Linked DNA regions of Homo sapiens. The protein of the gene in region 3 purifies or fractionates together with the protein of the main gene of each other region. This does not show direct contact. Each region holds a gene or a part of one and is shown on either strand. Other genes may lie near its edges.

The links.
Region 1: the proteins of TXNDC15 (region 3) and TMTC4 purify together in Homo sapiens (affinity purification with mass spectrometry; 3 studies listed by BioGRID and IntAct, with this or other methods). This does not show direct contact.
Region 2: the proteins of TXNDC15 (region 3) and SDAD1 purify together in Homo sapiens (affinity purification with mass spectrometry; 2 studies listed by BioGRID and IntAct, with this or other methods). This does not show direct contact.

The regions. Positions count from the first base shown.
Region 1 is NC_000013.11:100,672,653-100,676,402, forward strand, and holds the start of TMTC4 (protein O-mannosyl-transferase TMTC4), read right to left. Parts: upstream 2,144-3,750; 5' UTR 2,092-2,143; intron 1-2,091. UniProt on the Homo sapiens protein: Transfers mannosyl residues to the hydroxyl group of serine or threonine residues.
Region 2 is NC_000004.12:75,949,294-75,952,974, forward strand, and holds the end of SDAD1 (protein SDA1 homolog), read right to left. Parts: intron 1,505-3,681; coding exon 1,457-1,504; 3' UTR 622-1,456; downstream 1-621.
Region 3 is NC_000005.10:134,898,222-134,901,971, forward strand, and holds the end of TXNDC15 (thioredoxin domain-containing protein 15 isoform 1 precursor), read left to right. Parts: intron 1-1,267; coding exon 1,268-1,464; 3' UTR 1,465-3,414; downstream 3,415-3,750. UniProt on the Homo sapiens protein: Acts as a positive regulator of ciliary hedgehog signaling. Involved in ciliogenesis.

The DNA.
Region 1 (3,750 bases), on a different chromosome or scaffold from region 3:
GCTATTTTAAATATTTTTTTGTAGAGACAGGGTCTCACTATGTTGCCCAGGCTGGAATCAAACTCCTGGCTTCAAGCGATCCTCCTGCCTCAGCCTTCCAAAGCATGGGGATTACAGGTGTGAACCACCGTGCCCGGCCTCCACCATTTTTTACAGTCAGGACATGAAATAGGAAAGGATGCTCTGTTTTCTTCCAGATGGGCCCTAGGTTGAACTTTCTGGTCCCTCTTCTCCACATGATGTCCTGCCTGGGCTCCCTGGCTCCTCTGCCATAGCTGGATCGTTAGTTCACCTTATGAAGCAACAAAAAGAGAGACCCACTGTGGCCTCTGCTACAGGCCAAGCAGAGGGCACAACCCAGGAGGAATGAAGTCAGTGTTCTGCTCGCTACCTGACTCCTGCGACAGAATCAACTGGCCCCTCAACAGGGGCTGAATCTGGAACAAAGCAGACGTCCCTTTATCCTACAATTTCTCAAACTTCTCATATCGAGCCTCTGTTTTCAGGAGGTTAAAACAAATTAATCATCAGTGAGAAGGCCAAAAAGACCCCACACAGGGACCCCAGAAAAACAAATGTCATCCAGCTGTGAACCATGAGGGCCCAATGACAGCTGACACGGCAGCCTGGACTGCGGTAAACAGAATGGCGAGACCAAACCTAAATGTTTCCCCTTGGAAAAATTAGCAGCAGCCACCTACAGAAGAATATTCCCCTCCATGCATCCAGGGGCCTGCTGACCTCTGCCCAGCCTTTCTACCTCATCTGTAACATTCAATCACATAGCCAGCCATCCTATGCACGCTGAGAGGTGACAGCGCCTCTGGGAATCAGATTAGAGAACACAATCGTTTGTGACCCTGCATCCCTGGGCCTGGCAGTTTCCTGACTGATCAGACCCTGGGCCCCTCAAGGCAGGGGCGCGAGCCACCACCACCGCCCTCCTCCGTGCAGTGCTGAATACATGCTACTGAAGGCTAAGGTATCGTCCTGCTGTGACGGCCTTCCCATTTTATAATTCAGTAGCGCACGAGGGCCATGGCTGCCTATAGCAAGAATGTGTGTGGTTTGATATTCACAGTTCCACTGTCCCAGAAAGTTTCCAGTTTGCTAGCTTGTAGCCATTTCCCCTATCTAGGTGCACTGGCCGTGATTTTACCCCACTCCATCTGGGGCGCGCCCGGCGCAGACAGGACTGCAGAGAAAAGGGACAGGGAGGGGACCTAGTCAGTCCCTACTATAACTGTTTCTCAAGACATTCTCCCCATGCATTTATTTGCTCTCCCGGGGAAAGAGCGAAGTGTGGGATGACTCATAGTGGCTAGATCGTTCCTCTAACTCCTCCCTTCTTTTGTGTGTGGTTTAAAAAAAAGAAAAACACACACGCAGCCCATAGCCACAACATCAACAAGACCAGAAGCCCCGCAGAGTTCGCAGGAGGTGGGCAGTGGCTGCGCCACCTGCTCGGCTTCCCCAAACTCCGAGCCCACGCCGGGAAGCGGCGGCTCGGTGGCCCCGGGCGCCCGGGCCGGTGGCCCCGCGCTCGCGCCGCTCCGCTCCGCAGCCGAGCGTGGAGTAGCAGGCGCTCGCGGCGCGGCGGGGGAGCCGCCGCGGAACCCAGGGCAGGCGGCCAAGCGGCCCGGCTGTGTCCAGCCATCGCCTGCGCCGCGGCCAGCTGGCGGCCAGGCGCGGGGCCCCGCGGCCAGATGGCCGCTCCGGGGACGCGCCGCAGGCGCCGGGTGCGCCCGGGCCGAGGGAGCGCCGGCGCGGCTGTGCAGGCAGGGGCTGGGGGCGGCGACCTCTGCCCGGGCGGAGAAGCTCAGGGGCCCGAGCGCGGCGGGCGGGGCGCGCAGCCTCCACGCCGCGCCCTTTGTCCCATGTGCGGCTCACACAGGGGCCCGCGTCCCCCGTGACCCCGGCCCGGGCCGCAGCTCAGGTCCCGGAACCAACTCCTCCAGCAGCGCCGCTCTGGCCCGGGCCGCCGTGCGGGGCTCGGGACACGGCGGCAGCGGGGAACCCGCGCCCGCTCCGCGTCCAACTCCGCTCGCCCCGCGGCGCGCTCGGCCCTGCAGGGGCCGCCCCGCGCGTTACCTGCAAGGAGCCTGAGCCCCGGCCGCATCTCCCTCCCGGGTGCGGAAACTCTGGCGGCTCCAGGCACCCGCCCGGACCTGGCAGGGGGAGGGGCCGCCCGCCGCGCACCCGACCCCCCCCGCGCCGCGCCTCCCGCAGCTCCCCACGCGCGCGGGCGCCCCCCAGCACCAGTCTCGGCCCGCCCCCTCCGCCCGACCATTGGCTGCTGCTCCCGTCACTTTCAGGCCACAGCCAAGTCCCTCCTCAGCTCATTGGCGGACGCGCCGGTGACGTCAGGCCAGGGGGCGCTAGTCGGCGGCGAAGGAGGCGCAGGGACAGACGGACCCGGCGGGAGAGGAGGAAGCCGGGTTGTGGGCGCGGAGCTGAGGCGGAGGCGGGGCCGGGGCGGGAAGGGGCGGCCCCAGCTGGGTCGGGCGAGGCTGGCTGCGGGAAACCGAGTGAGCCCTCGCTTTTCCTCCGGGGTCCGCGCGCGGGACCCTATTTCTGGCCTGTCTCGCGCTTCGCCTGCGCGGTGGTCTCCACGCTGGGACTGCGGCGTCCTCGCAGAACAGCCAGAACTCCACTTCTTCCTGTCCGGGAGGAGTTGTTTAAAACATGCGTATCTCCACCTTCTGCTTCTTAGAACAGAACTGACTGAAGCCGTGTTCTTCCCGCCGAGACCATGCCGCCCCATCGACCCTGCTGCGGCCAGAGCCACCCAGGGCGGGCCCACTCACCGCAGGCTCGGGCCACTTGGTTCCAAACCTCCACTCCCATCCAGGGGCCCGGCACACCCACCACACTCCCACTCTCAGAGGTCTTTGCCGCCTGCTTCAGGAGAAAAGAGAAACTTCCACTTTCCACCGGCAAAACTGCACACCTGCTCCCTCCATCACCGAGCCCCCCCCCCCACCTTCTGTTTTTCCAGTATCGCAGAATCCGATCCGTTGCTCCCTCTGGACTGGAATCCGTATCCTCGGCATTTCATCATTCCAAGATTCTCTACTCCACGTACCCTTGCTGCCACCCTCTTCTACTTTCCATCGCTGAAGTTGGTGAAAGAGGCGCCTGCCCCCAGTTTTGTGGTCTCTCAACTCCACGTGTTCGTTTTCACACTCGGTGAAATTGCCTTTTTAATTGTCGCAAGTAGCATCCACATCACTAAAGTCAAAGGACACTCTCCTTTCTCGTGTTAACTGATCTGAGCAAAATTCCTTCTTTCTCCTTAAAACACGTCTTCCTGTGGCGGGGGTGCTCCACTTTCCTGTCTGTCCCCAGTCTTGGCGTGCTTGTCTACTCTGGGTGACCACCAAATAACAGAGTTTTCAAGGTCTCAGACCTTTCCTCTTACTCCACAATTTTTCCCTGAATGATTTAACCTGCTGTCAACATTTAAATCAATATATCCCAAATTTGCAACTCTAATCTTTGCTCCTCTGAGCTCCAAATCCGTTTATCTAGCTTCCTATTCAGCTACTCCTGGTAACAAGCACCTCAAATGGAACCCATCCAAAACTGAATGCGTCCTTTCCCTGCTTGCTTTCAACTCCCTGTCTCCCTGTGATAGTGAAGACACCACTATCCAGTGTTTCCCAAACTCTGCCTTCACCTCGGCATCTAACAAATCGCCAAGATTCTACTTCCTAAATAACTCTGAAGTCTGTCCACTTCCTACCATTT
Region 2 (3,681 bases), on a different chromosome or scaffold from region 3:
TAATCCCCCAACAGCAATCTGGGGCATTTTAGGGAAAGTCTCTAAGTCTCATTGAAATAAAACTGAAGTTGAATGTAGAAAGTGAACAGAAGAAACTGGAAAGGAAATAAGAACACTGGTTTTAGAAACTGCTTTCTAGGCCAGGCGCAGTGGCTCATGCCTGTAATCCCAGCACTCTGGGATCACCTCACGTCGGGAGAAAGCCCGTCTCTACTAAAACAAAAATACAAAATTAGCCAGGCGTGGTGGCGCATGCCTATAATCCCAGCTACTTGGGAGGCTGAGGCAGGAGAATCGCTTGAACCTGGGAGGCGGAGGTTGTGGTGAGCCAAGATCGTGCCATTGCACTCCAGCCTTGGCAACAAGAGTGAACTTCGTTTCAAAAAAAAAAAAAAACAAATAAATAAATAAAAAAGAAAATGCTTTCTGAGTGCAGAAAATTGCCCTTTACTCTAACTTGAGGTAACATCTACCACAACATTATCTGAGAAAGCTGAAGCAAAAGGCACCAAACTATTTCCAAATGCAAAAAATTGCATGCAAACAGACTGTCCCCTGAAATGGATGTAGCACGCCTGTGGAACGTAGAACACCACACACCACTCCACATACAAAGGTACGTATTTGGCATTAGAAACCTTTTATTGAGACAAGGTAAACAGTGGGCTGAAAATATTACAGGCTGAAGGAAGGCTGAGGAAACCAGTATGAAGGCAGCTCAAATGATGAACTAAATATATTCCAAAGGTACTATTTATACTTAAGGCAGTTTTAAAAGTGAGGTCTTAACCAAAAAGCCTTTACATGGCATTCAAAACAAAAACAAAAACAAAAAAAACACGGGGGGGGGGGGGTCACTTAAATCTCTTGGATTGACTAAAAGAGCTAAATTATGTACCCAAAATCTGTACAGCAGGGGCCTGTTTTCAGCAGGAAAGCCTATGTACAAGTAAGAACCTCTTACTCTTGTAACATTGTCCTGTTTTGTTTTGTCTTATAAGAATATATAACTCCTATCCTCACAGAGTTAGTCCATAAGGCCTCAGTGACCTCACAGAAATATGGAGTTAACCTCTACTACAGAACTATTTACACTGCACTGTAAATACACATATGTGTGTCCACCCTCACAGCTAAGCTGTCAATGCCTTGAGTGAAGGGGTTACAGCTCATTCGTTTTGCATCTACAGTGACAATGAATAGGCACTCAATACATACTTTTTTTTGCATGAATGATAAATGAAATGATTTTACATTACCACCACTATTTACATTAACATTCCTACCATTAGCCGTCTCCAAAATAAAAACACAAAATTGCTGCCACATGTTCAGCAGTTTTCACAATACAGTGTGTCTGGACTTTTTAATGTAAACAAACATGCTTGATTTACCAATTTTCAGAGCAAGGACACAAACTTAGCATTCTTCTAGGAATGGAAAACTTGCCAGGAAGTTACTTCATTCTTTTTCTCTTTTTCAAAAGTGCATCTCGTAGTGCCAACTGTAAGATAAAAAAGTATTGAAACATGATAACTCTTGGGTACCCTATTATACGAATTTGGTTACATGAAAGTTTACTAAAAAGGAATCACCAAGTCAATACACCATCCTGAAAAACTATAAATGATAAAATATTCCAAAACAGATCACATCTGAATCGAGGATGGGGCATATTACTGCTAGGAAATATGCAAAACTCTTGACTGCTGTTCCCAACTCATGGAGGCATAAGCTCAAAACAGGAGCAGCTATGGAATGCAGAGACTACTATTTATTATCCCTGTCTCCAGGGATAATAAATAATACTTATTTGGTCTATGTGGCTCTTAATATTTTGGAGTTGTGGATGGAATACATTGTCTAAATTAAAAGTAACAGGAAAACAGATTTTTCTTCATAATCAATCACCTTTCCCAATATCACATATATTCCACTAAATATGGCATGTATGGATCACTCAAAGATTTTATAATGGCATTCAGCACTTGTGTAGATTTATGATAACTCTATCAATATAAAATCTGAAACAAAGAAAAGTGATACCTTACTAAGAAAATGTTCTAAGTATATGCTAACACTAACCCTTTATAATGGCTCAAACATGAAGATATTAACTCAGAAATTGAAGCCCTGACAATTGTAGCTTATGGCAAAATATTTATTCTAGTTAATACAGGCTCTAATTTTTAACTTGTTTAATTATTTTGTGTTGGAAGTATGTAAAGTGAACATGAAGAATGAAAGCAGTGAATTGTATATCATAATGAGACTCAGTCTAGGCTTTCATCTCCTGGAGTTTGTCTCTAACCAGAGGCTGGGTTCTTCAAGATCCCCAGGGTAGAACTGGAAGGTGAAGAATTTAACATCTAGAGAAAAAGAAGACTGAAGGATCAGTGTCTGACGCAAACCTACAAAAGCCCTTATAAAGTTTTACATGTCAAAAGAAAGCAAACATAGTATTAAAGATGATCAAAAATAAACCAAAATTAAAGTTAACCAAGACCAATGTATACATCTTAAGTTTGTGATGGATACTATTCCATTAATTCCCAAGTACTATTCTTTGTCCTAGAAACTTTTAAAAATCTCTAGCTTTTATTTAATTTTTATTTTAAAATTCTAGCTTAAATTTTAACAAGATACACCTAAAACAGTTTCGGGGTAGAAGTTACCTGGCTCTACATACAAATGTTCAAACTTTTTGGATTTTATGATTTCCAGTTGACTCTTTGCCTTTAACTCACACCTGGGTCTTGGTATGTCTTTGCAGAAAAGCAGAAGAGCTGGGATACTTAAGGCAGAACAAAAATCTGTAAGTTCATTTCAACTTAATTTGGCTAAGGAGGTATTTTCCAGATTCATCTAATTCTATCTTATTTTCCTCATCTGCAAAATTGGTTTAATCACAGTAACTGCACATACTGTTGTATACTGATTAAACAAGTTAATAAATGGAAAGCCCTGGAATAGTGAAGTCTCATGCTAAGAACTAAATGTGTTAGCTAATGTTGGTTATGGGAATTTACTTCCACTCATTAAGCTTTGTAGCAAAGCACAGCCTACTCTCACACATATTTCAGTTCCTTCCCCTTCAAATGCCACCAATTAAAGAAAAGGAACAGGTATATCCCCCTTTTCTTCTTTTATCTTTCTACAGGCTTTACTGCAAGATCCTCCTCTCCTTCCCTATCGTATGCTTTACTTCCCTCTTCTAGTCTCATCCCAGTCACCTCTTCATATTCTAACAATTTACAGTAAGACCTCATGTACACTTTCAAGCCAGGTAAGATTCCTTTATTTAAGACACTGAAATATCACCAAAGGGTAGGGGGGTGTGTGAAGTGTGATGCTCCTTTCTCACAGGGCCCTTGGGGTCACAGGGCAGTTTTGGGGATGCTCTGTAACTGTTGTGTCCAATAGGGTAGCCACTAACTACATGTGACTACTGAGCATTTGAAATGTGGCTAGTCCAAATTGAGATGTGCTGCAGTGTTAACGACATGCTGATTTCAATTAGCTCAGAAACAAAAATGTACAATATTTCACTCATAATTTTTATATGTTGAACTACATGTTGAAACAATACTATTTTAGATATACTGGGTTAAATAAGATATATTGTTACAATTTCCTCTTTTTTTACTTGTTTATTTTTAAGTGATATATGTGGTTCATATT
Region 3 (3,750 bases):
ACCTGCATTGTCATGTATGGTTATGTTTTGTTCTTTTTCTTTGCTGCTACTGTTCCATTTATTAATCCATTTGTAGATGCTATCTTAGTTCCTTAATATTTGCCAAAACATATGGCCTTATTTTTTATTGTTTGTAAAACATTGTAAAGCATTGTAAATTGAAAAAATTACCTCCATTGGAAAAGTTCATTCCTCTAAAGCCTCACTGTCTCAATTGTGAGCATCCCACTCTTCCCAAAGTATGCTCACTGGAAATAAATAAAAATTATAACACACATTGCATATATATTAAATTGCATATAATCATTTTAGCTAACACTAAAGAAAAAAGAGCTGAGTTGGCTGATAGGAGTAAAAGTAGGATATTACAAGGTGGTTAGCTAGTCCAAGTCTTGTCATGGATCCCTGATTGTCATTTCGATTGATGTGTGGAGAGGGAGCCATTTTATTCAGTGCTCTAAGAAAACCTAGAACACAAATCTGGGAGTCAGAGCATCTTTGGTAATCCCTGTTTCCGTTGGTGGCTTGTTGTTATAACAGTTCTTTCAGTAAATTATTAAAAGCATTTTGGGGCTGGGTGCGGTGGCTCACACCTGTGATCCCAACACTTTGGGAGGCTGAGGTGGGCAGATCAACTGAGGTCTGGAGTTCGAGACCAGCCTGGCCAACATGGTGAAACCTCGTCTCTACTAAAAATACAAAAAAATTAGCCAGGCATGGCGGTGTGTGTCTGTAATCCCAGCTACTTGGGAGGGTGAGGCAAGAGAATCGCTCGAACCCAGGAGGCGGAGGTTGCAGTGAGCTGAGATCGCACCACTGCACTCCAGCCTGGGAGACAGAGCAGGACTTCATCACAGAAAAAAAAAAAAGCATTTCGAATTTAGCATTACTTAACCTGTGAAAACATTCTGTAGACACCTGAGAGGAGTTTTACTAGTTACTTACTGAACTTTGGTCTCAAAAGACACCAAAATACAACTCTTATAAACACATTGACTAAGAAACTTCTGATGAGTTCACAGAAATTCTAGTGTTTTAGTTGTGAACAGCTGAATGGGTTCCTGATCCTTTGATGCAGTGGGGAGAAAGGCAACTTACAAATTACACTGATAGGCAAGTGAAATCCATCCCATATATTTATATATATACTAGTGGCAATGCTTATTTTAGGACTGCATGTCATTTTGCATACCATACATAATACTTGAGAAAAATCTGTGGTGGGTGCTTTTTCTGCCTGATTTGAAACCAGTGATTTTTCTTTCAGGTATAGAAGCCAAGAAGAATGTGGTGGTAACTCAAGCCGACCAAATAGGCCCTCTTCCCAGCACTTTGATAAAAAGTGTGGACTGGTTGCTTGTATTTTCCTTATTCTTTTTAATTAGTTTTATTATGTATGCTACCATTCGAACTGAGAGTATTCGGTGGCTAATTCCAGGACAAGAGCAGGAACATGTGGAGTAGTGATGGTCTGAAAGAAGTTGGAAAGAGGAACTTCAATCCTTCGTTTCAGAAATTAGTGCTACAGTTTCATACATTTTCTCCAGTGACGTGTTGACTTGAAACTTCAGGCAGATTAAAAGAATCATTTGTTGAACAACTGAATGTATAAAAAAATTATAAACTGGTGTTTTAACTAGTATTGCAATAAGCAAATGCAAAAATATTCAATAGATGCACTATTCTTGTTTTTACTGCATGAACGTAATCCAGTATTTGGAAAGTAATCCAGTTTGAAATGTGAAGATGTATTCCGGCAGAATAGTGAGTAGAATGACATGCTTACTATACAGAAGGCAAAAATAGGACTCTCAGGTAATAGTTTAAGGAAACCCTTGATTCCTTATATATGTTTAAGAAGGTTAGTTTTCTGTTTCTTTGCAGTTTTTCTTCTAGAGTCCATAGCAGGAAAGTATGTAACCAGAATTGGTTAGTGTGACCCCCTCAAGTAGCAAGTGATGGAAAATAAGAGTCAAATACCTTGATGTTTGTGATCTCTAACTCAAAAAATTTGAAGTGTTTTAAGTTGTTTCTGGGTAAGGGAGATGTTAGGAGAAAGGAAATGCTGTAACTAAAGCTCAATTATTATCAGTTCTATGCTAACGTATACATTTTAATCATAGTTACCTAAGCAGCATGCATTAATTGAACCTTAAAATGTTCCCAGCAGGCTGGGCGCAGTGGCTCATGCCTGTAATCCCAGCACTTTGGGAGGCCAAGGCGGGAGGATCACTTGAGGTTAGGACTTTTGAGACCAGCCTGGCCAACTTGGTGAAACCCTCTCTCTACTAAAAATACAAAAAATTAGCTGGGCGTGGTGGCGGGCACCTGTAATCCCAGCTACTTGGGAAAGCTGAGGCATGAGAATCACTTGAACCCGGGAGGCAGAGGTTGCAGTGAGCTGAGATCATGCCACTGCACTCCAGCCTGTGCAACCAGAGCGAAACTCCATCTCAAAAACAAACAAAAAGAAGTATTGAAGTGTAAAACACTGTTCTTGCCCACAAGTTGATTCTAGTCTAGTTCAAGACACATGTTTAGTAAAGAGACAACATGTAATTTAAACAAACTTTTTTTTTTTTTTTAGACAAAGTCTCACTCTGTCACCTAGGCTGGAGTGCAATGGTGCAATCTTGGCTCACTGCAACCTCTGCTTCCCGGGTTCAAGCGATTCTCCAGCCTCAGCCTCCTGAGTAGCTGGGACTATGGGCCTGTGCCATCACACCCAGCTAATTTTTCTATTTTTAGTAGAGATGGGGTTTTGCCATGTTGGCCAGGCTGGTCTCAAACTGCTGACTTCAGGTGATCCACCCGCCTCAGCCTCCCAAAGTGTTGGGATTACAGGTGTGAGCCACTGCGCCTGGCCTAAACAAACTTTTTGAAAAGCTGTTTCTAAAAGATTCCTTAAATTCAGATATGACAGCTAATTACCTCATCATAAATTACTTTTATACTAATTGTTTCCAGGGTTTTAGAGTAGTTGAATGTTTATTTCACAAGGCACCCTAAATTCTATAGAAATAAAACCTCAGATGAGTCTCCTTCTTAGAGTGTTACAATGAATGGGAGTTTACAACTTTTATGTGTCATGTTTCCAACAGCTGTGTTTGGGGTGGTCACTGGCAGGAGGGGACCGTATCTCAGAATGGCACATTATTTCTATTTTACACATGAGCAAATTGAGGCATAGAGAGTTAGATAACTTGCCCAGGTTACACAGATTGTAAGTTGATGAAGCTGGGATTTGAATCTTCACATGTGTGTACTTATAAATACAAATGTAAGGAAAACTCTAGTGAGTCCACCTCTTATATTGAGTTATTACTGTGTGAGTGCCAAGTACTGTTTTAGATGCTTTACATATACTATTTTGTTTAATATCCTTTTTAAAGAATAAACTAGGTTGGTGCAGTAGCTCACGCCTGTAATCCCAGGACTTTGGGAAGCTGAGGCAGGTGGATTGCTTGAGTCTCAGGAGTTCGAGACCAGGCTGGTTAACATGGCGAAACCCTGTCTTTACTAAAAGTACAAAAAATTAGCTGGGTGTGGTGGTGCGTCCTGGTAGTCCCAGCTACTCGGGGTGCTGAGGTGGGAGAATCACCTGAGCCCAGGAGGTCGAGGCTGCAGTGAGCTCTGTAATCATGCCACTGCGCTCCAGCTTAGGCAATCAGAGTGAGACCCTGTCTCAAAGCAAAAGAAAAAACCTGAGGCTCTCAATAACTTGCTTTCCTTCATGCAGCTTCCAGTGGC